Linked DNA regions of Homo sapiens: all the other regions are linked to region 3. Evidence: fine-mapped QTL for protein levels in blood plasma. A gene starts in region 3. Each other region holds a variant in brackets. All regions are shown on one strand. Distances are from middle to middle. Region 1 overlaps EGFLAM (EGF like, fibronectin type III and laminin G domains). Region 2 overlaps EGFLAM (EGF like, fibronectin type III and laminin G domains). Region 3 holds the start of EGFLAM (EGF like, fibronectin type III and laminin G domains). Region 4 holds the start of EGFLAM-AS2 (EGFLAM antisense RNA 2).

The links. PIP is the posterior inclusion probability: the model's chance that the variant is causal. Protein levels are from antibody-based Olink assays in UK Biobank. Linkage for the fine-mapping came from a reference panel and not from the study's own genotypes, which makes the PIPs less certain.
Region 1: its variant is fine-mapped to the plasma level of the EGFLAM protein (UK Biobank, PIP above 0.99).
Region 2: its variant is fine-mapped to the plasma level of the EGFLAM protein (UK Biobank, PIP above 0.99).
Region 4: its variant is fine-mapped to the plasma level of the EGFLAM protein (UK Biobank, PIP above 0.99). The variant lies in the coding sequence of EGFLAM. If it changes the protein, the assay may bind it differently, which can mimic a change of level.

The regions. Positions count from the first base shown.
Region 1 is chr5:38,359,153-38,367,258 of GRCh38, reverse strand. The region is part of intron 5 of EGFLAM (EGF like, fibronectin type III and laminin G domains); the gene reads right to left. Among named protein-coding and RNA genes, the nearest start is that of EGFLAM-AS2, 40 kb to the left of the region's middle. The variant C/T (reference allele first, on the strand shown) is at 3,303.
Region 2 is chr5:38,371,342-38,379,447 of GRCh38, reverse strand. The region is part of intron 6 of EGFLAM (EGF like, fibronectin type III and laminin G domains); the gene reads right to left. Among named protein-coding and RNA genes, the nearest start is that of EGFLAM-AS2, 28 kb to the left of the region's middle. The variant A/G (reference allele first, on the strand shown) is at 3,381.
Region 3 is chr5:38,253,836-38,261,941 of GRCh38, reverse strand. EGFLAM (EGF like, fibronectin type III and laminin G domains) reads right to left here and starts at 3,383. Exons shown (of 22, transcript NM_152403.4): 1 at 3,091-3,383. The coding sequence starts at 3,187. LOC124900966 (a long non-coding RNA gene) reads left to right here and starts at 3,276. Exons shown (of 2, transcript XR_007058739.1): 1 at 3,276-3,348; 2 at 4,311-4,845. RefSeq lists an enhancer at 4,252-4,753.
Region 4 is chr5:38,401,892-38,409,997 of GRCh38, reverse strand. EGFLAM (EGF like, fibronectin type III and laminin G domains) reads right to left here. Exons shown (of 22, transcript NM_152403.4): 7 at 3,757-3,872; 8 at 2,852-3,170; 9 at 2,093-2,193; 10 at 894-994. It overlaps EGFLAM-AS2 (EGFLAM antisense RNA 2), which reads left to right and starts at 6,527. Exons shown (of 3, transcript NR_102750.1): 1 at 6,527-6,599; 2 at 7,917-8,106. The variant G/A (reference allele first, on the strand shown) is at 3,849.

The sequences.
Region 1 (8,106 bases), 110 kb before region 3:
GGGAGGATTGCTTGAGCTTGGGAGGTTGAGGCTGCTGCGAGCTATGATTGCACCAATGTACTCCAGCCTAGTGACAAAATGAGACCCTGTCTCAAAAACAACAACAACAACAAAAACATGGGCAGCCACCAGCAGGGCATACACTGCAAGCATTTTGCCAAGTAGTGAGATAGGGTTGGGCCAGGCACCCTATACCTCAGGAGATCAGTGGCTCAGCTTTGGAAGGTTGCTGGGCAGGTGAATTCAGGTGGGGAATAGAGAATGCGGCCAGCAGTGGGTAATCAAAACCCAATTCATCAATTCACTTAATCAGGGCTCACTAACTGGTTCATTTTGCCACTTACCATTGGCATTGTTAGAATCCAGCCTGGCTATCAGGGCTGGGTGAAATCTTAGAGATCATTTGGTCCAAGTGTCTGAGGACTCTCAGAAATTGTATGCAGGATTTTATACATGAACACATTTCATTTTTCTAAGTAAAGGGTCCTTCACTTTTATTAGATTCTCAAAGATAAAATAATGATCCCAAAAGCTTTGAGAGTCACTGATCTGATCCAGTCTCTCATTCTACCTACATGGTCACTGAAGGAAAATAATTTACCCAAAGTCACAGAACCACTGGGTGGTATACCTTTCTGTTTTAATTCTTTCTTGTGGTGTTTTGACTACCTTGCCCATTGCCAATCTCAATCTTAGTGAACAATCACTTTTCTTGATACTATCAAACCCCATAGGTGGCTGCCATGGGCTAGTCCATTGGCAAATGATGAATGATTATCAACCAGGCATCCATCACAAAAGTTATATTCCAGGAGGCTCCACGGAAGTGTAAGCACAGTTCCATTTTCAGGGAGTTTATAACCTAATAAGCTGGGGATAAAATACATCTGAGCATCAGTGCAGAAACAGCACCTCTAAGGACCAGTAGGAAGCCAGCGCAAAATAGCACATTTCAAGAACTGTATTTGAATAGGTCACTGTGAACTAGAATCCTGAGGAAAGTCTAAGTCCCAGAATCCATATCCTAGGAAGACATGGTTCTCTATGTTGATCACTGGGCAGAAGTTGCTCTAGACCCATCTCCGCTTGATGCAGGATCCAAAGAGTGGGTACTGCTGGCTTAGGTGGAGGAAACTTAGTGAGGATAGGGTGGTGTCTTTACATAAGAGACAGACAAATAAAGATGGTGTGGAAAGCTTCTGTGTTTTCCATGTTGGACTAAGAGGCCCAGTGGTTTCTTACAGAGAAGCCAATGGCAGGAAAACCTTTTGATGTCAATTAGGAATGACAGACAATGAAGCTGACTGCCTTGGAAGGGATGAACTGGGCCTCGTTGACTATATTAAAGCAAAACTGGGTGGTCCTCAATCAGGGACCATAATGTAACAAGTGACTTCCTGATCAGGGTGGGAGCTACTTAATTCAGTATCTCTGACCTTGACTCACAGTAAGTAAACATTTTTCCATAGTAAATATACCTATGCACATAAATATGTATATTATATATGAATACAAAGCTGAAAAAAGTTTCAAGAAAAAATACTTAGCTTTACTACCTTATTCATGTTTCTCCTTTCTTTCTCTCCTTTTCCTTTCTTTTCTACTTCTCCTTTTAAAAAACAAAATGCTGGTAAAAGACCATTAAATTGATCTTGCCACTCACTGAAGTGCTGTGGCCCATAATTTGAAACACACTGCACTGAACTTTTCCCCCTAGAATACCTTAGATGGCATTTCCAATTCTACAATTTCAAAAATAAAGCAGGTGTCATTAGCCCCTGAGAGGAATCTGTTTCTTGAACTTGAATTCAACACCAACACATGGCAAATGAAGCCTGTTCAACCTCAAATATGCTCTGGATTCATCACATATCAGAGCTGTGTTTTTGAATGATCCACGGTAAGATATACACTGGACATTGTGACCCAGTAAACACCACACACACATACATACACCTGAAACAAGTTTCACAAACCGATTCTCCTTTTTACTATGCGTGAGAGCCTGTGGTATTCTCTTTTCTATTCTATTTCACCTCTCAGTTTGAGAACTCCTGTTCCAGAAAGACAGAGCTGAGATGAAGAGTGAAGCTAAAGCATGTCATGGACGTTAACTAGGAAATGGCTAAAACTGGTTAAATCCTGCTAGGAAAATACTTTTGAGAGTGGAATTTGTTGGAGCAGCCAACTGTCCTCTAGGGGATACAACAGAACATCCAGAATAGCCTTGACCATAGAGGCCACTCTACTGGCCTTAGAGGGAGGGGACCAGAAGCCTAATTACAGCACAGACAGACACCTGTGGCCTCCTTCTTTCCACATCAAACCTACCAACCCACAATGGGATGCTTTCTGGAGGACGCTGGGTTACTTGATGGCTCCCTCCCTAAGTATTTTCTCTCACATTATTCCTTCTAAACATCATCTCATAAACAGAATTAAAAATACTTTCCTCCAGACAATCCCATGCCTTGAATCTGATTCTACTATCACACTGATTAGATCACCTTCCAGTATAATTTTAGACTTCTGTCTTTCCTCCTGGGCTGGGAGCTCATTAAGCATGGTGACTTTGTCTTCTTCATCTACGTGTTCCTTGAGATGTCTGCACGATCTTTCAAAGACGGGAATGCTACCAGTCTCTTTCCTGCTTACAACTTTCCATAGCTCCCTATTCCCTTCAGGATATAGATGGGCACCTTTATAAGGCCTTTTTTTGGTGTGACCCTCACCGACCCATCTCTCACCCCACAGAGCTCCAGGCTTTCTAAGCAATTCCAGGAACATTTTCTTCTTGCCTCCAAGCCACTGCTTAAGTGGCTTCCTCAGTCTAAGCTTTTCATGTTGCTTCCTCCCTCCCCTTTTGCCTGGTAATCTCTGATGTGTCCTTCTTTGCTCCCATAAGAAGCCTTCTTTCCTTCAAAACTAGGTCAGATCAAGCTTATGTTTCTCCAGGTTCCTGATCGCCATGCCTGCCTACAACACTCACTACTCCTCTGAACTCTGTCCATCTGCATTCCCCAGTAGACTGTCCAAGGGTGGAGTCTACAGCTTATTTATTCATCCCTAAATCTCTTGCATGTTTTTCACATGAGATACTCCATACATACATGTTTGTATGAACATATGCTCATAGGAGGTATCCAATAAAGGGTGATTGAGCTGAATTAAAATATCTTCAGAATTCAACTTAGAAATAGCATGATGCCTTAAATCAGGGTTGGCAAATTTCAGCCAGCTGCCAGTCTTAGTAAATAAAGTTTTACTGGAACACAACGACACCCATTTAGGTACTGTTTAAC[C/T]TCACCCATTTAGGTACTGTTTATGGCTGCTTTCCTACCACAGTGGCAGAGTTGAGCAGTTGAGACAGAGTTCATACAGCTGGCAAAGCACAGAATATTTACTATCTGATCCTGTGAGAAAAAGTTTAGCAACCCCTGATCTAAGACAACAGCATGGTTTAACTTGGCTTGTGCCACTTTGACAGTCCAATGAAGCCTATGAACGCCTTCTCGGAATGATGTTTTTAAAGGCATCAAATATATAGGTTCACAAAGGAAATCAATTATATTGAAAAGGATCATCAAAATAATAAAAATCATGAAATAATATACTTTATTAATACATTAAATAAAAAACCTAGCAATGGATTCAGTAACTATGCTAATTTCAAAGTAGTGATAAACATAACTGGTATTTTGAGATATGTGCAACCATTGTAACCAGATAAGAAAATACTTGTGATTCTAATGTTGACAGGGTCACAAGAATTGTTAATACCATTGTGATTTGTTGTCTACATTCATTTTTGAAGAAAATGCTAAATTTCCATTGGTAAAACTAGGGATATAATTTTTTTTCCAATCCAAGTCCAGGGACCCCTTGAATTATATTTCCTGAATTCTATCCAGGAAACCCTTGGGGATCTATGGACTGCCAGTTAAACACCCTGCTCTAAGAGAAGAGATGTGATCCCATACATTACCCAGGGCAAACACAACAGGGGTGAGAGGAAACCTCATGCTCAGAAGAGCCTCCGAATCAGTCAATTTTACATACTGGTTTTATGCAGGATTTGCTCTACACTAAATGAATTGCAGAGAAAGGTCCAAAACCACTCAGTAGTCAAAGATGGAAAAAAAAAAGATGTAGTATTTGACCTTCAGCTTTCAGCCTTCTTTCTTTATTTACAAATTGGTTTAACCTAACCAAATGACAAACACATGGATACAATGGTGTTATGATAAACTCACCTGGCAATTTGTCCCAGGTGGGGCAATAGGAGAGCACACTTCATTTACAGTTTACAAATGGCTCCCAAAGCTGTTTCATAATTCAATGTATGTCAATTGCCATCAGTCTAAGCAGGAATTATATCAGGAATGTTTAGGGTAGGAGGAATTGAAGCTTTACGGGATCAATTTGCCGAACTACAGGTCGGACTTCTTTAAATCCTTTAGAGTAGCCCTTCCATTAGGGCCTGAGCAAAGGGACTTGACAGCTTCTGGAATTTCTAGGACCAGGTGCTAGTCTAGTAGGTGGCTCTGAGATTTTCAGTTTCAAAACTAAAGGTAAGGAAAAGAATTCTTTGTGAAGCAGCACTTGTCGCCTGTCATATGAAATCCCAGCTGACATCCAAGCAAGCTCATTCTTGCTTATATCTAATTCTATTGCTGATGGTAATGAAAGCTCATACTTAAATAGCAAAACTTCTAACACTTTTTTTTGAAAAGAAAGGGAGATTAGGGAGGGTTGTTTTTTCCCATTTCCTCCCAAAATTAACTGTTTAAGAATAATTCTTTAAATATTTTCAATTCTAACTTTTGGGGGCTAGCAAGCCAACACCAGACTACATCACTCTTAAATATTGCAGTCATATGTCCAAGTTTTGCTATATATTCCAGTAAAATGCTCTGAAGAACGGTGGCAGTTCACTTAGTTATGATGACGAGCTCTAAGACATGAATTTGCATTCCACATGAAATAAAATCACAGTAGGAACTTTCAAGTTAGTCATATCCATTTAGGTATTATTTGAAGCTTTACCACATCTTGAGATTACTTTTATGATGAGAAAACGATAGCAATAAATAAACTTTCAGTTGGGATTGAAGTGGGGCATTGCGGGGGTCGGGGGATGCATATGTGCAGATCCTCGTTGGCTTTTGTATGGTTTTTATTTCTGTAGTGGGTGAGGTCAGATGTTGGTTACTGTTGTGGCCTCTGATATTGGTGGTAAAGGATTCATTGAATTACTTGTGGGTAATGCTTTTTACATTATTTACTCAAAAATAAGTAACCGCTAGTGTGAAAATATATTTGCATGTGGCTCAAGTTAAAAAAAAAAAAATCAAAAATCCTCCATGAGCCATTCTTCTAAGTGCTGTACAGACCTGTTCATCTCTGCAACTCTTCTGAGGTAGCCACTATTACCATCCGTATTTTACAGCAGAGGAAAGTAAGGCTTAGCAGGACTAAGCAGCTTGCTCAGGGATCCAGCTAGTTGCTGGCATCCTCTAGATCAAGCTTGTCCAACTCACTGTTTGAGGGCCACATGCGGCCTAGGACAGCTTTGAATGTGGCCCAAAATAAATTTGTAAACTTTCTTCACACACTATGAGGTGATTTTTTTTTTTTAAGTTCATCAGCTATCGTTAGTGTGTTTTACGTGTGGCCCAAGACAATTCTTCCTCTTCCAATGTGGCCCAGGGAAGCCAAAAAATTGGACACCCCTGCTCTAGATCAATCCCATGACTGCCTGTGTCCAAATGCTTACCAGCACCTATTTGACATGTGGTGTGTTCACAGTGCTATGTCCTATATTCCACACAAAGGAGCAAGGTAGACGTTGCATTCATGTTCCAAGAGGAAGACAGACCTTGAAGAAGTAATTAACTACAAGTGTGCTGAGTATTGCAAGTAAATGTTGGAGGTATAGCTAACCTAATCTGGGAGTAGAGGAACGTAGTCAGGCAGGGCTTCCTGGAGGAAGTGACACTTAAAGAGGAGTCCTGAAGGATGAACAAGAGTAAGCTAAGTAAGGAGGTAGAATAGCTGTCCTGACAGGATAGCAAGCATAAAGACTTGTGGCCAGGGAGGGTGCGGTGGCTCATGCCTACAATCCCAGCAGTTTGGGAGGCTGAGGTGGGTGGATCACTTGAGGTCAGGAGTTCAAGACCAGCCTGGCTAACATGGTGAAACCCCGTGTCTACTAAAAATACAAAAAAAAAAAAAAAATTAGCTGGGCGTGGTGGCACATGCCTGTAATCCTAGCTACTCGGGAGGCTGAGGTAGGAGGATTGCTTGAACCTGGGAAGTGGAGGTTGCAGTGAGCCAAGATCACACCACTGCACTCCGGCCTAAGTGACAGAGCAAGACTAGATTCTATCTCAAAAATAAATAAATAAATAAATAAATAAATAAATAAATAAATAAATAATTTCAAAACACACTTGTAGCCAGGAAGAAGCAGGCTATGTAGGAAAGCAGAAAAGACCCATCGAGTAAGCCATGTAGGAATAGTTTGCATTGATTGAGCACTTACTAAGGGCTAGGCGCTGTTCTAGGCATTTTATGTGTGTCAACTCATGTAATTTCATAATAACCCCATGAAGCAAGTAAATTATTATCCCCATTCTGTTGTCTGAGGCCAGAGAAGTTAAATAACCCACCAAAGATCACACAGCTTAGAAGTGGTAGAGACAAGGTTTGCACTAGGGAGTCCAGCCCAGAGCCTGTGTGTTACGCAATCCATCGATACTGCCTCCCCTACGTCTTGATACTAGACGAGCAGAGTCACAGGATTTTAGATGTCACGTATCCAGCATGCCTTAATTTGCAGAGAAAGAAACTGAGGACTGGAATCAAGCAACTTCACCAGGCTTAGAGGCTGGTTCAGAACCATCTCTCCTGATTCCACATTTGGACACACTTAAACCTCAAGAGATGATACTATGAATCAGGGTATAAGCCTCAATTCTGAATGAGAAATGCCTTTAACCTTCACAGCTTTTGACCTTGACCATGAGTCAAATCACATCATCTCTTAGAACAGTTCAAAGAAAATCCATCCTCTGTTCAGCTTCCATTCTGAATCCCAGACTTGATCTTCATTTCAGTAACAGCCTTTGCAGGGTCACTTCCTGTGAGGAAACTAATTAAGTTCCTTTGTTACTTACAGAATATGGAAGTCTATGATGAGATGGAAGGAGAGATGACTTTTGACAAAAATATCAATTTGCGAGTAATACTTTAAAAAACCCACCCAGGTTGCATGACCTTGAAAGTCTCAAATGAAACCAATATGTAGGTACTGCAGTCCACCTAGAAGCAGCCCCGTGTGAAGATGAATTCTTCAAGTCTTATTATGGAAGGCATCTGCCAGGGACTAGAGGAATATTTAGGCAGAAAAGTCAGAAAGGAAGAAGATGGGAAGCTTTGCTCCTTCTCACTTATTAATATAAATATCTTACGTTGAGATTTAGAGAACGTTTCTTGACCCGAGTCCCTAAAACATACACAGACATATTCTGAACTTTCACATGTACCCAAAATAAGCCAATAGTAGACTTTGTGTGTGTGTGTTTGAGAGAGTCTCACTCTGTCGCCCAGACTGGAGCGCAGTGGCATGATCTAGGTTCACTGCAAACTCCACCTCCTGGGTTCAAGTAATTCTTGTGCCTCAACCTCCCAAGTAGCTGGGATTACAGGTGTGTGCCACCACACCCGGCTAATTTTTGTATTTTTAGCAGAGATAGGGTTTCACCATGTTGGCAAGGCTGGTCTCAAACTCCTGGCCTCAAGTTATCTGCCTCTTTGGGACTGGGATTACTAGGATTACAGGCGTGAGCCACTGCGCGCGGCCAATGGTGGACTTTTAACTAAAAACAGCCATTGCTGAGCTTTAGCCTGCCCCTTCCAGAAGGTGACAATGCAAAGCTCTGAAGCAGTTTTAGCCAATAAGGTGACACCTTTAGAAAAACTCTAGGTAAGTTAAATGAAAACTATTTTTCATGTTTATCCAACTCGATAGACAGCATACGACAGGCATGGCACCCCGATTGGAACTTCAGTGATGAGGAACGTTTTTCCAGGCTTTTGGTTTTC
Region 2 (8,106 bases), 120 kb before region 3:
CTGTCATGGGCTATCTGTCACCTATTCTTTGGAGGTTCCATGCATCATTTACTCTCTCCTGTGTTCTCTGCGTCCTTCCTCCCCTGTCTATAAGCTTCTAGATCCCACTGGGTTTGGGGGTATTCACTTTTTTTCCTTGGATGCCCCCTGTGCATATACAAAATGTGTGTACCTTTTCTCCTCTTAATCTGCCTGCTGTCCGTTTATTTCATACACTCAGTTATTAACCCCTCTGTGGGTAAAGGGAAAGTCTTCCCTCCCCGACACAACCAAGTCCCATCCTAATGATTCCGGTGGACCTCACTCAGAGGGCTTCCTCCATTCTTCCACTTCCCAGAGAGGAAACTTTTTGTTCTTGTACTTCTGTTTCTGAATTCTGGCATTCTGATGTCTTCCCATTCCCAGAACAGAGCTCAGAGCCTGGAGTCTAATGAAAAAGCTACAGAACCCCCAGTGGCTGCCCCTGTCAGCTACACCATCCTTTAGTAACTAGGCATGGAGGGAACATCTATTAACATCTCCTTCATCTTGAAGAGTGGTCAGATACCTTAACCTCTGTTCCACTTGTGTTTTCTTAAAATAACCCTGAGAAGTAGAAAATATCACCTGTCTCAGGATTACTGTACCCATCTTAGAGATGAGGAAGCTGAGACCCAGAGATACTAAGTGTCTTTTCTGAGGAGGTCCCACAGCAAGGTAGTAAGAGGACAGTTTTCCTGGACCTCAGACCCAGACTTGCCGGCCAGATTCTGCTCTGTTCAAAGGTACAGATGCTTGGGGGCAGTGAATAGTGTAAAGGTTGGCAAGAACTTTCATAGGCATGGATTGAAAGAGGCTGCAGCTGTAAGGAAGCTGCTAGAGAGTGCTAATAAGTCACAGGGACTTTGGAGCACTTCCTGATTGCTTTGTAGCCATCCCCAGAACATGCCACTACCTTCTGTCTCCATTGCTTCCTCTCTGCTCACTGCTGCAGCCTATTCAGGGGCATTGCCGCCAAAGAAGAGTCCTCACTTGCGAACAGGGATAAGGGAAATCTATTCTGTGGCTCTATGACAACATGTACCCCGGGATCCTCGCATGCTGTAACTGGTCTCCAGGCAGATGGGCAATGAAAAACACAGCGGCCCAAATCTCAGAGCAAAACTGGGCAAAAGCCAGACTCACACACAGACACTTATGGGACAACAGGTTTACACAACCAACGACAGCTGTACTAAGCAAGCAGGAAGGTGTAGAGAAGAAAAGAGGGGTGAGATGAGAGGGTGCTGGGGAACAGCATGGAATCAGATTTATTGTAGAAATCTGATTTGAGCCAGAGGGAGTTTGTCTCAGCTCAGTGGAAGAGTATGTTTCTGAAACTGTGGAAGAAAACAGTTTATGGAGAGAACAGTATGGCAAAAATCAAACCAAAACAAAACATCTCTCATACTTCTCTATGTAATCCCTGAGGATCTGAGACCATAATTAGCCTTATTAGGAAAAGGAGGAAAAGGTAGTCTAGAAATGTTAATGCTTATTATAATGATCAAGTAAGAACCCAGGGGTAAAATGAGGGCTTGGTTTGAAAGAGAGTTAGAAAATGTCTCTCCTTTCACCAACCCGCTATCAGCAAACTGTACTCTTTTTAGCATTAGAATCTCATCCTTACAGCCTTGAATTTAAATTCACTGGGTTTGCTCTCTTCCTTCCTTCTTTCCTTCCTCCCTCTTTTACTCTATTTGTTTACCTTTTCCTTATTTATACCACATTGCAATTCTGGGAGTTCACTTTTGCCTGCGAACCTTGCCAATGGGAAATTCACTTTTGGCCTATGTGGGTTTCTAGAACAACTGTTTCCTTTCATCTTGTCTTTGAAGTTCCCATACAGTAGCAGTAGGGAGTTATCCAATCACCAAAGTAGTCACAGACTCTTAGCTTGTTAAGTCACATTCACTCATTTACATACTCAATAAATACTTATTGAGCGCAGACCTTGCATAGGGTGTTGAGAACACAACATTTGATGGCTGGGAGTGGTGGCTCACGCCTGTAATCCCAGCACTTTGGGAGGCGGAGGCAGGAGGATCACCTGAGGTCAGGAGCTCCAGACCACCCTGGCCAACATGGTGAAACCTCATCTCTACTAAAAATCATAATAAAAAAATTAGCAGGGCATGGTGGCAGGTGCTTGTAATCCCAGCTACTCGGGAGGCTGAGGCAGGAGAAGCGCTTGAACCTGGGGGGCGGAGGTTGCAGTGAACTGAGGTTGCAGTGAACTGAGATCGCACGACTGCACTCCAGCCTGGGTGACAGAGCGAGACTCTGTCTCAAAAAAAAAAAAGAGAACACAACGTTGAACAAGTTATTCCAGCTCCAATATGGACCTTATCCTAGAGAGGAGATACAGACAGACAATATGATGCATAATATAGATTCAGGCAGTGAAAGTGCTATGGAGAAAATAAAGCAGGGCATTAGGCTGAGACCACAGAAGCCTGGGGTCGAGCACAGTGGCTCAGGACTGTAATCCCAGCACTTTGGGAGCCAAGGCAGGCAGATCACTTGAGCCCAAGAATTCGAGACCAGCCTGGGCAACATGGTGAAACCTTGTCTCTACAAAAAATACAAAAATTAGTCAGGCGTGATGGTATGTGCCTATAGTCCCAGCTACTCAGGAGGCTGAGGTGGGAGGATCACTTGAGCCCGGGAGGTGGAGGTTGCAGTGAACTGAGATCATGGCACTGCACTCCAAGACCCTGTCTCAAGAAAACCAGAAGCCTATCTGAGAAAGTGACATTTGAGCTAGGATCTGAAAGGAGAAAGGGAGGAGGCTGGTGGCATGATCATAGAAAGATCTGAGGGAAGAGAGTTCAAAGCCCAGGAAACAGCAGGTGCTAAAGTTCTGAAGCAGAAAAGAGCAAAACGGCTTTTGCTAGGAACAGAAACAGTACCATCTACTAGGAACTGATCTAAGGACACCAATTCACTTCAGTGAAGAATGTATTTGTTCTTTCTCTGCTCATATCATGAGGATAGTATCCTAGAAATTAAGTGGTTTTGGTGGTTAAGACCAAGTTCTATTCCTAGGGGAAGTTATATAACCCTAGAGTTGATTACACATGTAACTTATTTTTAATTAAATTCCCGTTTTTGGAAAAAAGAAGAAAGGCAAGTGACTTTTTTACTTCTGCCATTTCTATTATTTACCATTCATGTCCTTTTTACTGGCTTTCATTCTACTTGATGAAAGAATGTACTCATTAAGCTTCAAGCTCAGTAGTTGGTGGCCAGTGGAGGCAGTGAATACATTTTTTACAAAGCCCCCAGTTCTGCACTCCAACTGCCTGATTTACCAGGTCAAAAGGAAACTATAATGCTGCTGGTGTTTCTTTCTTGCAGGG[A/G]AAAAAAAAATACAGCAGGATGGGGATAAAGAATGAGAGATCATGATTTGGGTCTTCTTTGAATTTCCTCTTGGAAACAAAACAGGTGCTGATTTGTGTGGAACGCCTCCCAGGAGAAGACAGAAGTACATGTAGATGCACCATTATTATTCAAGGTCACCAAAATGATCCTAGCTCTCATTAGAGGACCTAGACACTAAAGTCATTTTTTTTTCTTCCTGTTCTACTTATAATGTTGTGGAGCTGGAATTAGATGTGGACACTGCACGAACTTCTCAACATTGCAGTGGAACCACCAACACCATCCTCCTTTCTCACTTCAGCTAAGTGCCAGTTAATGAAAACACTGGGCCTGGCTTTCATTAACTACCAGCACAAGAGCAACTAAGATCTTCCAATTGCCCCATTAAGCAATTAAGTTGCTAATAGTGTCTGGCATTAATAGGCCCAGTGGGAAGTGAAAGCTTCCCCAGTTAGTAGGGCTGAAGTGTTATCTTTTCTTACAAAAGAGTTTAGCCCTAAGATAAACAGGCCACAGAGGACCCCAGGGAGTGGCCTGTGTCCTTGGTGGGATCTCAAGGTTCCCACTGGGCACTTAGCCTCAAGGATCTCCTTGAACATTGTGTTGTGAAGGTGGCTGTTCAAGGAGCAAAGTGGGCATTAAATCAAGCCAATATTCATGGAGACAGAGAGGAGTGAGAGGGACGAGAATGGGGTAAGCCCGACATGTGGAAATTCTGACCTCACAAGTGGAGAGTAGTGTTCAAAACATTTCTGTGTCTTGGTTTGGGTCTAACTAATCTAAGGGGCTGCCAGCTGTAAAATACTAGGGCTATACCGAAATATACGGGTTGACTTTCAGTGCACATATATGTTTTACCCACATTTCTGTATGTGCAATATGCCTTACGAGTTTTAAAACCAAAAGCAAATGCAACAAGAACAAAAATAGACAAATGGGACTTAAACTAAAAAGTTTCTGCACAGCCAAAAAAAAAAAAAAAAAACAACAACAGAGTAAACAGACAATCTACCAAATGGGAGAAATATTTTCAAATCACGCCTCTGAAAAAGAACTAATATCCAGAATCTACAAGGAAGTCAACTCAAGCAAGAAACAACCCCATTAAAAAGTGGGCAAAGGACAATGAAACCACCTTTGCAAAAATTATGACAGAGGAAATTATGACAGTGAAAGAGATCAGACTTAACTGACTCCATCTTGCTTTTAACCTTTAAGCTGTCTTTATTCATTCCTGGGCGTAGGCCGAACTAACCTTGGGAAGGAATTCAGTTTATGGTTTGACTCTGAAACAAAACTAACAGCCTTTTCCCATAAAGATCCCCTTCTTGACTGGGGACCAGTCAGCCTTTGTAGGACTAACAAACTAGCTACAGGATTAGAAATTACGGTTTAGGAATCATGCAGCCTCTGGCTCTAAGAGTCTGAGCCTCCCCAAATTGCTCCTGGGGATAACATCACTATTGTAATACCTAAAATCAGTGCTTGAGATATTTTGCAGACCTTTTACTGGATGGATAGGCTGACACCACCCAGACCGGTAATCTGGCTCAACCAGTTCTGTGATCCCATCCAGGAACAGAAGACAGCAAGAAAACCTCACTTCGACCCCCTAGGAGTCCATCTCCAACCTGACCAATCAGCACTCCACATTTCCCAAGCCCCTGCCCAACAAATTATCTTTAAAAATTCTGATCCCCGAATGCTCAGGGAGACTGATTGAGCAGTAATAAAATCTGATCTCCTGCATAGCTGGCTTTGTGTGAACGATTCTTTCTCCATTGCAATTCCCCTGTCTTGATAAATAGGCTCTGTCTAGGCAGCGGGTAAGGTGAACTGTTGGGTGGTTACAGCATGAACAGACATTTCTCAAAAAATGATATACAAGTGGCCAAAAACTCAAGAAAAAATAGTCAGCATCACTAATCATCAGAGAAATGCAAATTAAAACCACAATGAGATGTCTTACACCAATCAGAATGACTAGTCAAAAAAACCCTACTCTGAATAAATTTGTGAGGCCAGTATGGTATTTCTACACGCTGGGCTTATCCCATCCTCAGTCCTCCCACTTCCCACCATCTACATGAATGTTTACTTGATTTGATGCCAACTTTGCTACCAGATGTCGGCATGACTGTGGAGAAAAGGGTAGGCTTATACGCTGTTCATGGGAATGCAAATTAGTACAACCTCTGTGGAAAACACTATGGAGACTTCTCAAAGAACTAAAAATATAACTACCACTGAGCCAGCAATCCCACTACTGGGCATCTACCCAAAAGAAAAGAAATCATTATATGAAAAAGACTCCTGCACTCGCATGTTTATGAAGCACTATTCACAATAGCAAAGTCACAGAATCAACCTAAGTATCTATCAAAAGTTGACTGAATAAAGAAAATGTGGTATATATACACTACAGAATATTATGCAGCCATAACAAAGAACAAACCCACGTCTTTTAAGCAACATGAATGAAACTGGAGGTCATTATCCTAAGTGAAATAACTCACAAACAGAAAATCAAATACTGCATGCTCTCACTTACAAGTGGGAACTAACCAATTGGTACATGGGGACATAAAGATGGAAATGAGAGACAATGGGGACTCCAAAAGGCAGCGGGGAGGTTGGGAGGGAGGTGGGGGCTGAAAAATTACTTCTTAGGTACAATGGTCACTATTTGGGTGATGGGTACACTAGAAGCCACATACATCTCACTCAGGGAAGCAGCTTCACAGTCAGCCAAACCCACGTTCAAATCCTGTCTTTACAATGATCAACCTTGCCAAAAATACATTACCTTTTAAAAACTCATTTTTTTTAATCTGTAAAAAGGGGACACTATTCCTCCAGCACAGTGTTTCTGTGAGGATTAAATGGGTTTTGTAGGTAAAGTGCCCAGCACATTGCCTGGCTCATAGTACATCTTCCCAATGGTAGCTCTGATACTTCAAATGTATTAATTTGAAGTATTTTGTATTATTTGAAATTTATTAATTTGAAGTAATTTGTTAATTTGTTAAATTAAAATTTAACAGTTTTAATTTAATTCAGATAGTGCTATTTGATAATTAGGTAATTTTATGTATGGGAAAATCATGTTTTGGAAGCAAAATAATAGTCTAAACCAATACCAAAATAAAAAATATAAATGTATCCTAGAATAAAGGGTTTTCCAAAATGTCAGAAGTGATCAAGGAGAAAAACCACGATTGAAATACTAATTATAGCACATGCTTTTGTATTCATGAAACAGGTCATCTAATAAATTTTGTTATTCTGATCTGAGTAACTGTGTATACCTAGAAGTGTAAAATTATGTCTATTTAAGAATGTTTCATAACTGAGAATTTTCATTGACTTAGCATGGTTTTGTCCACCTTCCCTACCCACAATTACTTTGAAATTTTAAAATTTTACTTCACATAACAGGCCAATTATAATAAAATCTCACAGATCTGTAAAACACTTTCATATAACTTATCCACTCAATCCAGAAAAGCAGGATCCAGCAATGGGGAAATTATAATCAGAAACTCTAAGACCAGATCAGTGTTTCCGTTAAAAAAGAAGCAGTATGAGGCCGGGCGTCATGGCTCATGCCTGTAATCCCAGCACTTTGGGAGGCCAAGGAGGGTGGATCACAAGGTCAGGAGTTCGAGACCATCCTGGCCAAAGAGACCAGCCTGGCCAACGTGGTGAAACCCCGTCTCTACTAAAAATACAAAAATTAGCCAGGCATGGTGGTGGGCACCTGCAATACCAGCTACTCGGAAGGCCGAGGCAGGAGAATTGCTTGAACCTGGGAGGCGGAGGTTGCAGTGAGCCGAGATCGCGCCATTGCACTCCAACCTGGGTGACAGAGTGAGTCTCTGAGTCAAGAAAAAAAAAAAAAGGAGCAGTATGAGAGGTGCCCCAACCCACCCATCCTTCCCTGACTCCAGTCTCTATGCGCACATCTAAATCAGCATGTGCTTGTTATATCTCATCTTTATTCTACATTCTTGACTCTACGGAGAAGGGAAAGCTAAGGGACAGACTGAAAGAGGTGAGCCTGGAGCAGCTCACGAAATGGGAGCAGGAGTTCCATGGGGAGGGTGGATGGGGACACAGCACCAAGTGGCTGCTCACTTTGTAGTGCAAAAAGACGAACTCAGTGTTTCAAAGTACTGTCGGCCCCTAGCTCCTGCTATTCCATAAAGTTCAGCCAAAGAGTAATCAAACAAGGCCTTCCTTTAAATCGAATCATCAACATTTCTTCTAGGAAGAATGCCGTCAGCCTTTGGAATGTGTCTGGGAAGTTTAAGCTTCTAAATTCTAAAGAAGAAGAGTGAAAACATTTTTTTTTCCTGGGTGATCAATAGTACTTATAGGGTGCACGAGCATGTGCATATGTGTGTGCGTGTGTGTGTGTGTATGTGTGTGTGCGCATGTGTGTGTTTTGGAGTATAGCCTCCCTATATAACCCAACAATTTAATTTGACAAAAGGCGACCCGACATTCAAGGTTAGGGTAGAGGTTGTTTTCAAAGGAGCCAAAATTCCTCAGATTTGGGGAACCTCCTGAATCTCTACCCCTGAACACAGCAGTGGCCTTGGATGTCAGCTGTGTGGGTGCTTTGTGAGGAGAGGAGATTATTCAGCTCTGCTAACCAATAAAAACAGGGCTTCATGTTGGCTGGTTAAGCCAGTTACCAGT
Region 3 (8,106 bases):
CATTCTTCAGAGGCCCCTTTTTCTACCCTCAGGTACTGTAGTGGGCCCTCTGACCCTCACCAGCCTTAATCCCCAGGAGTTCAACAAGAGAAGCAAGTGGTTCATCATCACCCCATAAGGCCACACCCTGTGATTCTTATAAATGAGGCCAGTAGACAGTAGCTTCCAAAATTCTTTCAGTATCATATGCACTCTGTTGTCTTAGCAGGCATGGGCAGATCCCATTTACAAATGTTTAAGAGCAACGCAGGATCCCCACACAAAACAGCAGCCTCCACCTAGGCTCCAATATCTGACCCACGGGAGCTCCACTCTTCAGCCTCCAGGAAGACACCCTACAAGACATGCTACACACCTCTGCAAACACAGTGTTCTGAGCTCAGTTTCTGGTCCTGAATATCAGAGTTTAAATTTCCATTCCACCGCTTACTAGTTGTGTGACCTTGGATGAGATATTTAACCTCTCTAAGCCACAATTTCTCCTTCAGTAAAACAGTGATAATAATAGTCCCCATCTCCCAGGGCTATTGGGTTGATTAAATAAATCACTGTGCATCCAGTTCTTAGAACAGTGTAGCAAGCACTTAGTGTTAGTTATTATGATTTAATTTCACTTAATTTGAAAACTGTCATTTCTTGTAAGTCTTGGCAAATGCAGAGGTTTCTTTATTAATGTTCAATGTCAAAAGATGAGCTATCTTGGGGTGAAGAGAAAGGTTGCTTGTGTTGAACCCAAACTAGACTCAGACTTGAAGCTGCTACTCAGTTTTTTCTCACCAGAGGTAGGTGCGGATGGGGAATTTCCAGGTTGATTTTGAATCCAAGACTTCTCCAACAATGCTATACTTATCAAAAGTAGATTTAGGAGTATGAGGAGATAGGGAGGGTCATCCAAATAAGACAGAACCGCTCCAGTATGCCTGCACCGTGGCCACGATACCTTCAAAGTACTGTCTATGTACCAATTTCTGTTGAGGAAACAAGGTACAAAGAAACTCCCATATGGATACTAGCAGGATTTGCTAGTGTCTGGGGAAGATTATAAATTAGCTAGTTGCTGCTCACATCAGAGCCAAGCAGGGCACATTCAGTTTTTTAATCTGGACCAATTTTCCGGATCAAAAACTAGTCTTTCCAAGGGATGTAAATGAGCCCAGGAGGGAAATTTCCCCTGAAGTTATGAAGTAGCTGTCATTTTAATCTGAGAAGCTTTCCAACCTGAAAGCTAGTGTCTGGATAAAATTATAAAGTAATAAAAATAAAACTCTTCTAGGTTGAACCTAGTCTAAACACTTCTATCTCAAATTTGATGTAATTAATATGCCAAAGTATTTAAGAGGTGGTGTTTCCACTATCAAAACCCTATCTATGCTTCAAATAAAACCAAAGAGGCCAGCATGGCATATTCCTGGCATGAATATCAGAATGAGACCCTGAATGAACCAGGTAGAAAATCTTTTTAGGAGAAGAACTCCAAAAAATAAGAAGGAAAATATGATGACCCACATGAGCAGTTTTATACAACAGGTTTTTATAAAATGCTTTTTAAAAATTCCCCTTAAATGGATTAAAATATATCCTTTAAAAAGCATTGCATACACTGTTCATGCTTTAAAACTATAGATATAACTATGCTTTGTTTAAAAATTGTGACAATTAATAGATGATTTCATGTGAATAAATCTGCAAAATGCAATTGATCGTGATGTGGTTATCTTAAGGAGGAAAGTTAGAAAGAAGCCCTTCACTGAAATCCTTGAAGGTATATGTATGTGTGCGTGCAGGAAGAGAAACAATTTAATGTGATATTACCTTGGACTGAAGCTATTATCTCCAAAATGAATTGAAGAGCTCATAAATGGAGTGGCTCATAATTTAAATATGGTGTAGATTATGATAATGACCTTAGATTTCAAGGCAGGTAACAAGTGCTGGTAATAAGAGACACAGTGCAAAGACTGAGGACGCTTCCAGAGCCGAAATGCAACAAGTCATATTTCCAGATAGAGAGTTTCAATGCGAAAATATTTAAGCATTCACATGGGATCCCGCTAAGACGATTTTCTCTGCCCTCTGATAAATTTTCCTAGCTTTGCCTCTTTCTTACAGAAACGTTTGTGAAGACAAACTGCACTTTCTGTGAGGTTTTGCAGACTGCATTCAAATAAAAGTAATATTGTTTTCCATTGTTCATAAGATATAATTAATCCCATAAGACAACCTCCCTTACAAAGTAAGTTAAGACAAAACAGATTTTTCAGAATTCTAAATATGGTCCCAGCAAAAAGTAATAAAAATCGTTATTTGGGAAACAATGTTTAGAACTTCATTGTTCAGAATGTTCTACTTTGAATAATCTCACAGCATAGGCCAAATCAAAGTAGACCAAAATAAACGAAGACTTTTTACCTATATGCAGCTAGAGGAAACACACGTTATTATGGTTTCAAGTTCTCCCCCAATTCCCAGTCCCTTATAACAGGTTACAACGTACATTTCTTTGTTTAAATGCCAAAGCAAAGACAGGAGTTCAAAACACGGTAAAATTAACCCACTGGGTGCTTCCTTCTGAACAAATGGCCCCAGAGTGGAAGAGGATGCTAAGAGCAGAGTCCACATCCCTGCACAACGCGTGGGCAGGACCCGAGATGGGCAGAGGGGGCTCCAGGCAACCCTTCAGACACTTAACAGGAAATGGCTGGGCTCTGGACAATATGAATTGAGTAAAATGTTTGGAGACGCAGGAGGGGCTGGTTTGACTCCTCTGCATGGTTGCCATCCTCTGTAATTGAGACAGCACGATCGCTGTCCCAACTGTCAGCTCTCTGCGGTCAAACACGGGGACCACCACCTCTATCTACTATGTCTGGAAAATTGATCATTCTTTTAATAAATAAATATCCCTAGCGCCGCCCGGGCTCGGGGGAGGGCGAGGTTTGCGTCTTTTCTCAGCTCCTGGCAGAGCTGAAGCGAGTTAAGCAGACGTTGGTCGGGGAGAGGGAGGCGGTGCGCTGCCCGCTCTGTGTCCTCGCCCCGGAGCCCAGCAGGGGCGCTCGGGGCGTGGTGGCTCTGGGCGGAGGAGCGCATTACCTGGTTTTCGGATGGCCGCTCGGAGCGACACCGCGCCGGGTCCGAGGCTGGAAGCCAGGAGCAGGAGCCGGAGCAAGACGCCTCGGATTAAATCCATTTCGCAGCCGGCGCCTGCAAAGTTTCACCAAGTCCCGGGCGCACACGGAAAGGGCGTCTCCGGGGGCGCGTGGGGGACGCGGCCCCAACGGATCCCCGGGCCGGGGCGAGGAGGTGGGGGGCTGCGAGGGCTGGGCCCGGAAACACGGGTAGTTCCAAGAGGTAGGACTGCAGCCGGGAGGTCGGCGTGCGCGAGTGAAGCCGGCTGCAAGCTGCAGGGCTTTTCGCGGGGGCGGGGGCGACGAAGGAGGCCGACTGGGAGGGAAGGGCTGGCCGCGGGAGGGAGGGAGGCTCGACCGGCCCGGGGATGAAATTACAATCGAGTGGAAGTGAGAGGGACAGGCCCTGAAACCTTCACTCCTCGCCCACCTCGGAAGCAGACAGCCCGCCCCTCACCCTCTCTAGCGACCCCCAGCGCAGCCCTTCCCCGCTGGTGACCTAGATTGGGGACCTGGGAGGGACCGACTTCAAGCACTGGAGACGCAGGGCAGGAGTTAGGCGACTGCGGGTCCAGGACCCTCCGCGGTCCTCACCCTGAAATCTTGGGGCGCCCCCCCTCCACCCCACCTGGGCCCTCCTCCTGCCGCGCCCCTCTAGGCGACTTTTTCTAACACCTCAAAGGTTGCTGTAGTTGGTCCAGCGCACTTGGGGGATGCGAGGGGTAGACGGGGGTCTGTGATTTGCAAGTGGGGTGGGGGTGAGAGGAAGAGAGGCGGGACCGTCCGGGTCTGAGGCGCTAAGAAGATAAATGGGATTTAAGGCTCGCAGATGGAGAGCTGAGGCCAGGCCGCTCAGACTGGGACGCCGGGTGGAGATTAGGGCCTGGAGCGGGGGAGTGGGGGCCCTTCCCGGCAGAGGAAGGCAACTTGAGACCCTCCTGGGGAGGAGATGAAACTCCAAGTTAAGCCTGGCGTCTTAGGGAGGGACGCGAGCTCGAGCCCCCAGGCGGACCGAGAAAAGCCCCTGGGCGGCGCCCAGCTGGGCCTGGGGCAGGGGGCCGGGGCGGGGTCCTGGCCTCTGATCCCGGGATCGGGCTTCCTGGGTTGTCTCCTGAATGGAGAAAGACTCTTTCTCCGCCGCTGAATTTGCTGCCCTAGGACTCAGTAAAATGTACCTTTTGCCAGATTTCGCGGTAGTGCCTGGAGAGGGGAGACCCTGCCTGGGACACAAGTCCCGTTGCATACTGGCGTTCTGACCTCCAAACCAGCGAGAAGAGAAAGCAGATACAATAAATAAACCAAGAGGGAATAAACTTAGAGGCAAACGCGGCCCTCGGCAGTTCCTGGGGAAAGATCAAAGGCCGTAGGAAGTGCCCCGCAGAGGAAATCTGCAGTCACTAGCGACAGGACCGCGCCCGCCCCCTCCCCACCTTGCAACGCTGCCAGGACTCGGTGGGCGTCCTGGCTCTTCACAGTTAGCCTATGTTTGGGAGCGCGGGAGGAAACAATGTTGACTGATATATTCTTCTCCCCTCCCCAGCCCCCCAAACACACACACACAGGATTTCTACTCCTCTTTTAAGAATGAAATATCCCCTGGCTGGAGAGTTTGTAATGAGCTCAATCTTGTTAGTTAGCAAAGCTGAGTGTGTTCCCTTATGTGTTGGCATTTTCAAGTGTGCAATTGTCTGTTCACAAATAAATTCAAAGTCCCCTCCAACTTGAGTATTTGGAAGTTTTAGCTGTGACACCAGAGCTTGTCCTCTTACATAGAACTGGAGCAAAGTTCAGACAGAACTATGCTCTTCACGTCCAAGGTGACCATAAAGCCGGCCACTAAGCTAAGCAAAGTGACTGCCCCCAAGGCTGCTAGTCTCAAAGGTCTCAAAATCATAGACTTTTTAGCATTTTAAAGGTCATCTAGGCCATGCCTCCACTCCACGCAGGAGTCTGCTTTCAGCATTGGTGTCGGGTCGTGCCACCTCCCTTTGAACTCCACCTGTGTGAGAGAGCTCCTCCAGCGCCAGCTGAGAAGTTGTTAGAGGCCTTTCTTTATGCGAAAGTGATTTCTTATCTCGGACTTAATGTGGCACCCAGAACCAAGCGAGTGTTGCAATGCAGATGCCTCCCATGCAGGCTTTCCTACTTAAAAATGATTCTCTGTGATGCTGAAACTGGAAGTAATAATAATCGTTGATATTATGGCTACCATTTATTTAAGGTCTCCTATGTACCAGACCTTCTTTGAAGTGCATTTTAATCCCAATAACAACCATACCAGGAAGATACTGTCATTACTATTCTCGCCTTTTACAGGTGAGGAACCTGAAGCATGGGAAGGTTAAGAAACTTGCCCAAGGTCATGCAGCTCCCATGCAGCGCTTGAATCCAAGGGGTCTGATTCCAGCTTTCAGGCTTTTGAGAGAACAATGTGGAAAGTAAACACAGCAGTGGACTGAGAGGATCGGGAGATGTGGGTGTTTAATCCTAGGCTCTGCGTATAGTGTGCCTTGGTAAAAATGAATGGGCTGGACGAAACAATCAGTAAATTCCAGGTTTTGCTTTCTCTTTAATAGCTGATAAAACAGCATCATCTAATCTAAGCTACCTTTACTCTGCATGTGCCTTTTAACAGACCCTGTGCAAATTGTCCACTGCAAATTTCGCAAGCCTGGGCAGCCTTCTTGCCAATGTCCTCCTCATGTGCCCACACCACCTCGGCATCCCTGGCCCTGGGCCTCCCTTCCATTTTTTTGCAGATGACCATAGGCGATTTGGGAAATAGGCTTGGTTTCTTCAGAGACCCCTCTTGTTTTTTCCTTGGGGAAAAACAACATTAGATTATACTGTTGTATTTTTACCTCTGAGGGCCTGCAAACACTCTGGATCATCAGGCCATTGAGATAAGACCTTATTTCACAAAATCTGCTTCAAATCTAGAGCACATGTTACATTAAACTTATTCCCTTCCTTTGCAGTTCAAATCGCATCCTCCAAGGGAACTGGAAGATTCCCTCTCCTTCCAGTTTGAAAACCAACTATGGCATTTGTAAATCTGACTAAAGACAAATAGAACACTTGCCTTTCACTCTCTTCCTGCTTTCTGAGAGGAGGGGAACTAAAGAGGGGCCAAGAGGCTTTGAATGTTTCATTAAAAAAAAAAAAATCTGTTCAAATTCACTGGAGGTCTAAACTCAATTAATAAGGTCACCAGCAGAAGAGTGACCTGCCTACTTTGCTCATTATCATGGAAGAGGAATCTGACCTTTGCTGCATGGAATAGATTTGGAGGCTGGTAGAAGAAAGTAAAGGCAAACTTATCAATTATAGAATGTTTATTAAGACTCTAAATGAGAGTGACAAAGAGGCAGCAGCCAAGAATCATCTTTTGATTTATTTTTCTAAATTGGTTATATCTACATGTAAAATTTGAAATGCAGATCAGGCAGAGTGTATAGTGAAAAATAAGTTTCCTTTTCTTCCTTCTACCATCACCAGTTTCTTGGATATCCTTCTAGAGATGGTCTATGAATGGACAAGCTAATTATATACACATATATTTAACGCAACCAAGAGCATCTTCTACGTACTTCTTAACCTGATGATCCTTCCAAATCAGCAGATACAGATCTGCCTCCTTCTTACTAACTGCTGAATAATATTCTACATGTGATATGTAATTTATTTGTTCTTTCTTCTGTTGTTTCCAATTATTATAAACAGCAGGCATGAATGACACTGAATATGTAATAAGTTGCACATGTTATAGTAGACTGTAGGGTTCATTTCTAGACTAACCATGCTCGGTCAAACAGTAAATGCCTTTTCAATTTTGATAATTTGGCTACATTTCCTCCCAAGGAGGTTGTACTATTTTACTCCCCAATAAGCAGTATATGTGCCTAACTAATTCCGTGAACTCTCACCAACGTAGTGTCTTATCAAACTAGAAATATAAATATACATATATTTATATGTTACATTTTAATCAAGATGCAACATACAAAAGTATCAAATAGTAAGTGTACCAATTGATGAATTATAGCAAAGTGAGCACACTTGTATAACTTTATTAACTACTGCCCAGATCAAGGAATAGGATATGACCAGCACCCCCACAAAGCCCTCTTCATGCTTCCTCTCTAGAAGTGTGTATTTTTGAAGAAGGATGAGGGATGAGAATTCTAACCTCCCATTTACCTTTAATTAAAACACACAAATAAAAGTAGATCAGTAAAAATAAGTAAACACTCTCCCTACACCAATGTAAAACAAACATTGAGACTGAATCCCATTATGTGTAAGTCTCTGTGCTAAGAACAGAAATAATATATTAGAGAAAATGCAACAATATTTTTTGCACTCAAGAAGACTACAAATTTGTTGGGAGACGAAGACAGTTGCACTGTCAATTGTTCCATAAAGCAGAACAAAGGAAGCCCTAAATAAGAGTGCAAATAATGTGCTATTGGGTTGAGTGACAAAGACCCTGTATTACAAATGATAACATATATAATAAGATACTGTATAATGCATAGCCATCTGCTATGCATTATGTCCTCCTTGCTTATACTTGATTATAATTAAGTATGTAATCAATGGACTGCACTGACAAAGCAAACGTGTAATAAACCCCCAGATCAAGAAATAAAACAATACCAGCACCCCAAAAGCCTTTCATTCTTCCCACTAACTGTAACCTACCCTACAACCAAATAGGTAACCATTTTCCTGATTTCTAGCACCTAGATTATTTTGGCCTGGTTTTGAACTTTATATAGATGGAATCATGCAGTAATGTAATCACTTATTCCTCTTTTACTCAACATTATGTTTGAAAAAATTCATCCAAGTTGTGTGGTTATTCATGTTCATTGCTGTGTAGTATTCCATTATAGAAATGTATCATAATTTGTTTATCCATTTTACTCCTGATAGACATTTGGGTTGTTTCTAGTTTGGAACTACAACCGAAGATGTT
Region 4 (8,106 bases), 150 kb before region 3:
GCCATTAGGATGTCAGCCAGTGCGCCACGGAGAAGGACAAGGCTGGTGCCCGTTGGTTGTTCACAAAGAGGTGCAGTGCACACCTCCACAAGACTCATTAAAATCTTCACCCTTCGACAAAACTCTGCCCCCCAGGAAGACCACACATAAGCTAAAGGTGGCTTCCAAAGTGTGTTGGGGGAGAAACGATGAGGGCAGTGGAGGCAAGCCAAAGAGTTCCCAGCACAGCCCAGAGGAAGATGAGGATGGTAAGCCCATAGGAGGTTGGAGGCTCCTCTCAGTCCACACCTGTCAGCCACATTTGCCAAAGGGAGATGAGAAGGCCCCAGCCTTCTTCCCATCACATCCACTAGAGCTCCAGAGAAAAGAAACTGTATTCCTTTGGCTCACTCTGCATCCTCAGGATTGACAGGAGTGCCAGGTACCCTCCTCAAGAAACATTCAGCAGCACCTACAGCACCAGTTACATCCAACAGTACCTCCAGCACCAGGTACATTCAACAGCACCTCCAGTGCCAGGTACATTCAACAGCACCTCCAGAGCCAGGTACATTCAACAGCACCTGCAGTGCCAGGTACATTCAACAGCACCTGCAGCATCAGGTATGTTCAACAGCATCCCCAGGACCAGGTACACTCTACAACACCTCCAGAGCCAGTTACACTGTAGGTGCTGCTGAATGAATGAATGATTTCCAAAACCCAAGTTTTATAGGTTATCCTGCAATCCCAGTACACCAGTATTTGGTAAACTGGTTCATACTCATTTTATACAAACCATTCTTTCATCTACTAGAACCTATCCTGTATATATTTTTTCATACTATAAAAAGGCAAATATAATGTAAGATAATGTAACAAAAAAAGAGTGTGAGGCTTTTGGCAGGAATTACCTGAACTGCAGGGAGCGTCGGATGATAGCCAGGGACATGAAATCCCCCCTCCCGTGTTCGTTCTCCCCACAGTAGAGCAGTAAGCCATCCTCTGCCTCCGCCTGTGATTATACAAACAAAAGCCACATGAACAGTAAGCACCTCCCCTTCCTTAAGGCACCACCTGGAAAGACACAAATGTGAAACTTGAGCATTTTCTCCTCCACGATCCTATCTACAAAGGGTCAAGCATGTGGGCTCCAATTCACTCCCAGATACCTGGTCCCAGTTCATTTTCAATAAACAAATGGCAGTGATATAAACTGAGGGGTAGCAGTGAGGCGAGAGCAAGGTGACCCCATCTTTGACCCGCTCTTTACTTGTCCTTTGTGGATGCACCTGCAGAGCCTCAGAAAACCAAATGTACAAAGACCACGGTCACAGTGAGGACATTGCTGGTGTACATCCAATTCTATTTTCACTTTGTTCTTTCTATTTCCCTCCCCCTGGGGAGGCATGCACATTTGCTTCTTTCCTTCTATCAGGAGAACAGGATGGTAAGAATAGCTCAGCCAAAAGCTGTGCTGGTGGTCTTAGACTAAGACAGGTCATTTCTTGAAGACTCAACACTGTGGCCATGACTTCAAATGAGACTTCTTTCCAGACCTCCAGACCTTTTTGTATCATTGGAGATACCCAAAAGAATCAGTTTAAGCTGAGGTCACTGACTGAATTCTTATCTGCAGTTGATTCAAATCAGAGAACCTCCACTGGGCCCTCACGAAGCAAGGCTTGCGTAAAGAAAAGTTTTCTATTTGTTCAGTGACAGCTATCACAATGAAGACAGAGAATTGGGCTCTCTTTTTAAACAATTTTGGAACGGGGAATGCATTGTTTCTTCTCAATCCTGGCCTGGGAGAAATCACTATTGTGAACAACATTGCTCGGACCCCAACATTCTCACTTGCAATCTTCATGCCAGCTACTCTATAGTTCAGTAATATACAAACCCACCGTCTCCTCACTGTCACACTTGAATGTTGTGAATGTACTCTTCATTCCTATTGTCTCATGAGCTGGTTTAGAGACAGGCTCTGTGTCATATTTACCTTTCGTCGCTCTCCCTGCTGCCCCGCTTCCTCTCCCCCAGCCTTTGAATGTAGCACATTGCTGTGTTAAAGTGTCCAAAAAGCACTCATCAAACAACACATCCCTCTTACCCTAAATTCAAGAGTAATTTGAAATGCCTGATAAGAATTCTTCAGAGGTTCAAACGTTACATAGGAGTGGCCAAAGAACTGAGGATACTGGATAACAATATCTGAAGAAGAAAAAAGACAACACAAAAGAATGCTATTTCCTCACTTCTTCAAAAGCAAAAATCAATATACAACGTTGCCTGAATATCATTAAGTGAGAACCCTCACTAATCTATTCAACTTCGCTATCTTCTTTTCTATACTTTTTATACCTACAACTCTCATTCTTGGAGACTTTGAGCTTCTGAAATTCTTAGGAAGAAGCTGCATTTTTGGAGACCGGCACTGGCTTTCCTAAGAAGAAACCAATGGCATTAGGGCCACTGTCACTTGCCCTCAGCTATACAGGCCTTTGTGTAATATAAGTTGGCCCAGTTGTTATCCTTCTTAACCCTCATGCATAAGCTTTAACTGCGTATTTTGGTAGAGATGTGATTATAGTAAAACCTACCTCTCTAAGATAGTATCAGGATGATTTATTGATTGCTTTAAAGGGACTACACATTTGGCACACATAGAAATAGGGCTGCTGTCTACTTAGAAGCAATGAAAGTTGCCTCACAATTTGCCTTGTATAGTTAATTTAATGACCAATATGTGGACGAAGGTACTTATCTTGGAGAAGGGACTAGAAGGAACTATGTTTGGACCACAAAACTGCCCTCTGGCTGTCAATGGTGCCAATTCATCACCACTTCTTCCTCTCCCCCAAGGGCCTACCTTCTGAGCAGCTCTCACCACCTTTGCCCAGGGTGCACTGGCATCGCGAGCCCCCCCAGGTGTAGTCATTGACACAGAAGCTGTCAGCAGAGCAGAGAGTTTCATCACAAGGCATGTCAAAGAGCCTTGACATTATGGCCACACCATTCTTCCCCTTTCTCTGTATGGGAATGGGCTGGGGAGCCACCGTGGTCACAGGGAGAGATGCTGAGGTAGGGGGGATGAGCCTAGAAATGGTCTTTGGGTTAGATATAGACATCTTCTTGCTTTCCACCAAAAATTTCTTATTCCCTCCTTTGGTAGCAGGAAGTGGTTTAACCTAAAGCCAGAGAAGGAAAGGGGTTCAAGATGAACACAGAGCATGGCAATTGGACTGTTTTATTTATAGTTGTTGCCTAGTACTTGAAAACATGGTCACTTCCAAAAACCCTAGGATGGAGATGGGGAAGACAGCACTGACTCTAATTTATGGACAAAGAGCTTGATGGTCAGGGACTTATAGTGCTTTTCCTTGTATTACTCAGAAAATCAGCAGTAAAACTGATATTACATTATTTATTCTTATTACAATATGATGAAGATGCATGACTTTGTCAAGGAATTGTTCATTTCCTTATAATACTTGATTTTCTGAAATTTCCCTTGGTGGGAAATAGAAATATGTTTTTGCCAGATTGTGAAGTCCGCAGGCAGGAGCTGCCTATGGAACATCAGGATGGCTAGTACTTCCCTACTACTGATTTATCAGCACCTGGAGACTGATCATCAGACAAAACAAATCAGTGTTAAAAGCAAATGGGCACATTTAAGTTTTAAGTAAAATGTTTATGGTCCATTGGCTAAATTGTCTTGTTCGGCAAGAAAACACAAACACCCTGGGTTTTAAGAGCAGAGATTATTGTTACCTCCTCAAAGGAAATATCCAAATCTAAGTCGTCTTCAAATCCTTCATCATCCTCACCAGCTCCCATGTCGGTGATATAACGGGGTCCATAGC[G/A]GCCACTTCCCGCCTCCTCAGGGCCTTCACAAAGAAAAGCAGCACACCCTTCATCAGCACAGGCCTTCTTTGCACTATTGTCTAGCCTAACTCAGCCACAGGCAGAGCTGTACCGAATGGAACGCAGTGTATTGGAAACATAACAATGAATTCAACACAGAAAAGGAAGCGTCAATGACCAAAAGATATAAAAAAAGTTTCCTCTCATAAGTTACTAAGGAATTTCCAACTGAAACCAGAAAGAGCTTCCATTTTATACTGACAAGACTGGCAAAAATGTCAATCAGATAATAAAAATATTACTAAGGACGGGATCAATGAGGACTCATATGGTACTTGTATAAACTGGTCCAGTCACTTTGTGAAATACTTGGAAATATTTCATAAAGTAGATGTTTGTTCATACCTAGCAATCCCATCCCAACTTACAAAAGCTGGAGAAACTCCTGTACCTGTGTACCAAAAGGCGTGTTCAAAACAGGTTCATAGCATCAGAATTTGTAATAGTAAAAAATACTCCAAATATGCTATTTATAAGAACAAACAACATCCCAAATGTCCATCAACAAAGAATGACTAAATTATTTATAGTATATCTATAGAATGGAGTACCATATAGTAGGGGAAAGGAATGAATCATCATTTAATATATCAACATGGCTTAATCTCACATGACTTCATACAAAAAAAATGCAAGTTGCAAAAGAATGCATCTAGTTTGATGACATTAATATAAAAGACAACAGCAAACAAAACAATATATTACTTAGGGATACATATATATGTAATTTAAACTCTTTAAAAAAGCAGGACAAACACATAAATACCCAAGGGAAGATAGAAAAGGGATGTGAATGAGGTGTGATTCACAGGGGCCTTTGAGAGTATTCCATCATATTCTGTTTCTTAAGGTAAGTGCTGGGTACCTGTAAATATTCATATTTTTTATATGTTGTATATATACATATATATACTTTTGAAGTACAAAGTATTTCACTAAAAGGTCTTTAAAACAAAAAAGGGAGATTATAGTAAACACTCCCACAACCAAAAAAAGGGGGCCCTATAAGGTATCTTGGGGGTCATCCATTTCATCCATCTTAGCAGGACAACTAAATCTTTCAGAACTGAAAGGTGGGTGAGAAAACCTCTCAGACGTCAATACAGAGCATCATCTTTTGGGGAACATTCAGTTGGCATTTTTATTCAACTGTCATCCGCAGAATCCACTGATCCACAGCGCTCTGATTTAGGTTGCACATGGGAAACACTCCACCAGGAGGTGGCAGCCTTTTAAAGAGCGGCTCCAGGGCACCTGCATGTCCTCACAGTGGATTTGGGCCAGCACAGGTATTAACTTGCTGCCCTCTCTCAACTGAAAAAGCCAGGCACCAGCCTTTAGGGCAGTAACAACTTTGGCAACAGAAACTGGCTTTGGTAGGATGCTGCCACTCATTAGTTATTAGACATCCAGTGTTTGGATGCCTAGTGGAAAAGAAAAAGGAAAAATAACATAAAAAGCATAAAAAACATAAACTAAACTTAAAGACATTTTGCTTTCAGAATAAGCTAAGTCATGCACCATTCTCAGGAAGACAAACTCACCCTCCTACATTGTCTGTCCAGGCTGCTACAACAAAAGTACCATAAACTGATGGCTTGTAAACCACAAACATTTATTTTTCACAGTTCTGCAGGCTGTGAAGTCCCAGATCAAAGGGCTGGCAGTATCTGATGAGGGCACAGATGGTGCCTTCTCACTGCATCTTCACATGGTGGAAAGGGCAAACCAGCCCCTTTGGGCCTCTTTAATAAGGGCACTGATCCCATTCACAAGGACTCCACCCTTATGATCTAAGTACCTCCCAAAGGCCCCTCCTTGGGGGTTAGGATTTCAACATATGAATTTGAGGGAGACATAAACATTCCGACCATAGCACTCCTCCAAACAGAATAGCAATCAGATTGAAAATGGAGTGGAAGGAAATGGCAGAAAGTCATTTTTGTCAGGGGGCGTGCTGTTGACCAGAAATCAATCTCCTCCCAGACCAGACGAGAGAAGTGCAGTCAGCAGATGATGCAGATGACCCAGAGACAGGGTGGAGTGAGCTGTTCTCAGGGGTTCGGGCACTTCTTGGTGGAGGTGGGATAACAAAGGGGAGGCGGTGTTCTCATCCCTTCCACACCAATTCCCCAGTTTTATTTAAAGTAGTCCACCTGTCAACTGAAAATTCAACCTGTCGATGCCAGATTTATACCTGGATGCATGTTCTCTCAAGCCACCTGCATGCAGCGTATCTGTGTGCCAGATGTCTTCACACAAAAGGCCCTTGAGGACAGCTCCTTCCTCTTGTCTCTATCTTTGTACAGCAAGCAGTCCCCCTTATCTGTATTTTTGCTTTCTGCAATTTCATTTACCCTCGATCAACCACAGTCCAAAAATATTAAATGGGAAATTCCAGAAATAAACAATTCATAAGTTCTGAGTAGCACGATGAAATAGCACACTGCCCTGCTCCATCCTGCCTGGGATATGAATCATCCCTCTGTCTGGCATATCCGTGCTCCATATGCTCCCTGCCCCATGGTCTGCAGCCGTCTCAGTTGTCAGATTCACTGTCATGGTATCGAAGTGCTTATGTTCCAGTAACCATTATCTGACTTCATAATGGCCCCACAGTGCAAGAGCAGTGATTCTGGGATTCAGATATGCCAAAGAGAAGCCATGAAGTGCATCTTTTAAATTAAAAGGTGAAAGTTCTCAACTGAATTAAGGAAAGAAAAAAATCATATGCTGAGGTTGCTAAGATCTATGGCAAGAATGAATCTTCTATCTGTGAAACTGTGAAGAAGGAAAATGAAATTTATGCTAGTTCTGCTGCATATATAGGGTTCAGTATTATCTGCAGTTTCAGGTATCCACTGGGAATCTTGGAACACATCCCCTGCGGAGAGGGAACTACTGTATCTATCTCTCTCGGCCCCTCTCTCTCTTTCTCTTTCTCCCCTCTGTCCTTTCCCTCACTCTTCATTTCTATCTCTGCCTCTCTCACATATTCAGAATTGTTAGATTCCAGAAGAAGAAATCCATTTGGTAGTAAAAGAATTATACAGCACATACATAAAGCAAGCTGGCTTTTGTCTTCAGTAGTTTGGTCTCTCTCCTTCCAGGCTGTTCTTCCTTGCCCTGTGCACCTTATTAACACATTCTCAACAAGGTTAAGATTCTCTTCATCTTTATCCTATGATTTCCTATCTGAAAAATCACCTTCAGTGACTCTCCACTGCCTACAACATAAATTCTAGGCTTCTTGGTCAAGAATTCAAGGTTCTCAATTAAAACAGCTCCTTTTTTCCTCCTTCTTCCCCCATCACCATGATTTATTGAATTCTACTCCATCTCCTCTTCTTATCAGGTACTATTGGGTGCTTAACATGATATATTTCTAAACTTTTCAATAATCTTACAAGGTAAGTATGACTAATCCATTTTATACATAAGAAAACTGAGTTAAGAGTAGTTAAGTAATTTACCTAAAATTGAAGACTTTATAACTGGCTGAGCTAAACTCAAATCCAAGGTCTGTCTGGTGACTGCTCTCCTAATCGCCTATTGCAGAAGAAGCCACTGTGGAGGTAGAAAGATCCTAGAATTTGAGAAAATTACCATATGTTGATCATTCTTAGTGTGCCAGGAGCTTTTCATACATCGCTTAAGTTAATCCTCACAAAATACTATAAAATTGGTGTTATTACTTCCATTTTACCAAGTGGAGATATAGACACAGAGAGATTAAATAACTTGCTCAAGGCAGACAGATGGGGAATGGCAGGGCTAGATTTTATCCTTGGTCTCTCTTTTGACTACATCATGCTACTTAATCTGAATCCTAATTATGTTTTCAGGTTTTTGTTGTTTTTTAAAAAATACTCTTTAAAAGCTATATAATAGCCAAACTGGCCTGCCAGTTGTCTCCTGAATGCATCTTGTATTTTCTTACCCTAGGATTTTGGTTAATGCTTTTTCCCATTGTCATCTTTTTCCCACTCCTATCTCCTTACACACAGCCTACCTATTCTCCCAGAGGGCATGCATTCTATGGAGACAGAGCTGAATGTGTGCCATCAGAAGACCAAAATCAAGCGACATTTTAAAAAGAAAACAGACTCTTCTGGGAAAAATGGTGACTCCACAAAGTAAGAAGCCACCAAGACTTGTAGGACATTCCTTCATCTTCTCCTGGATGGGGCAACCCAG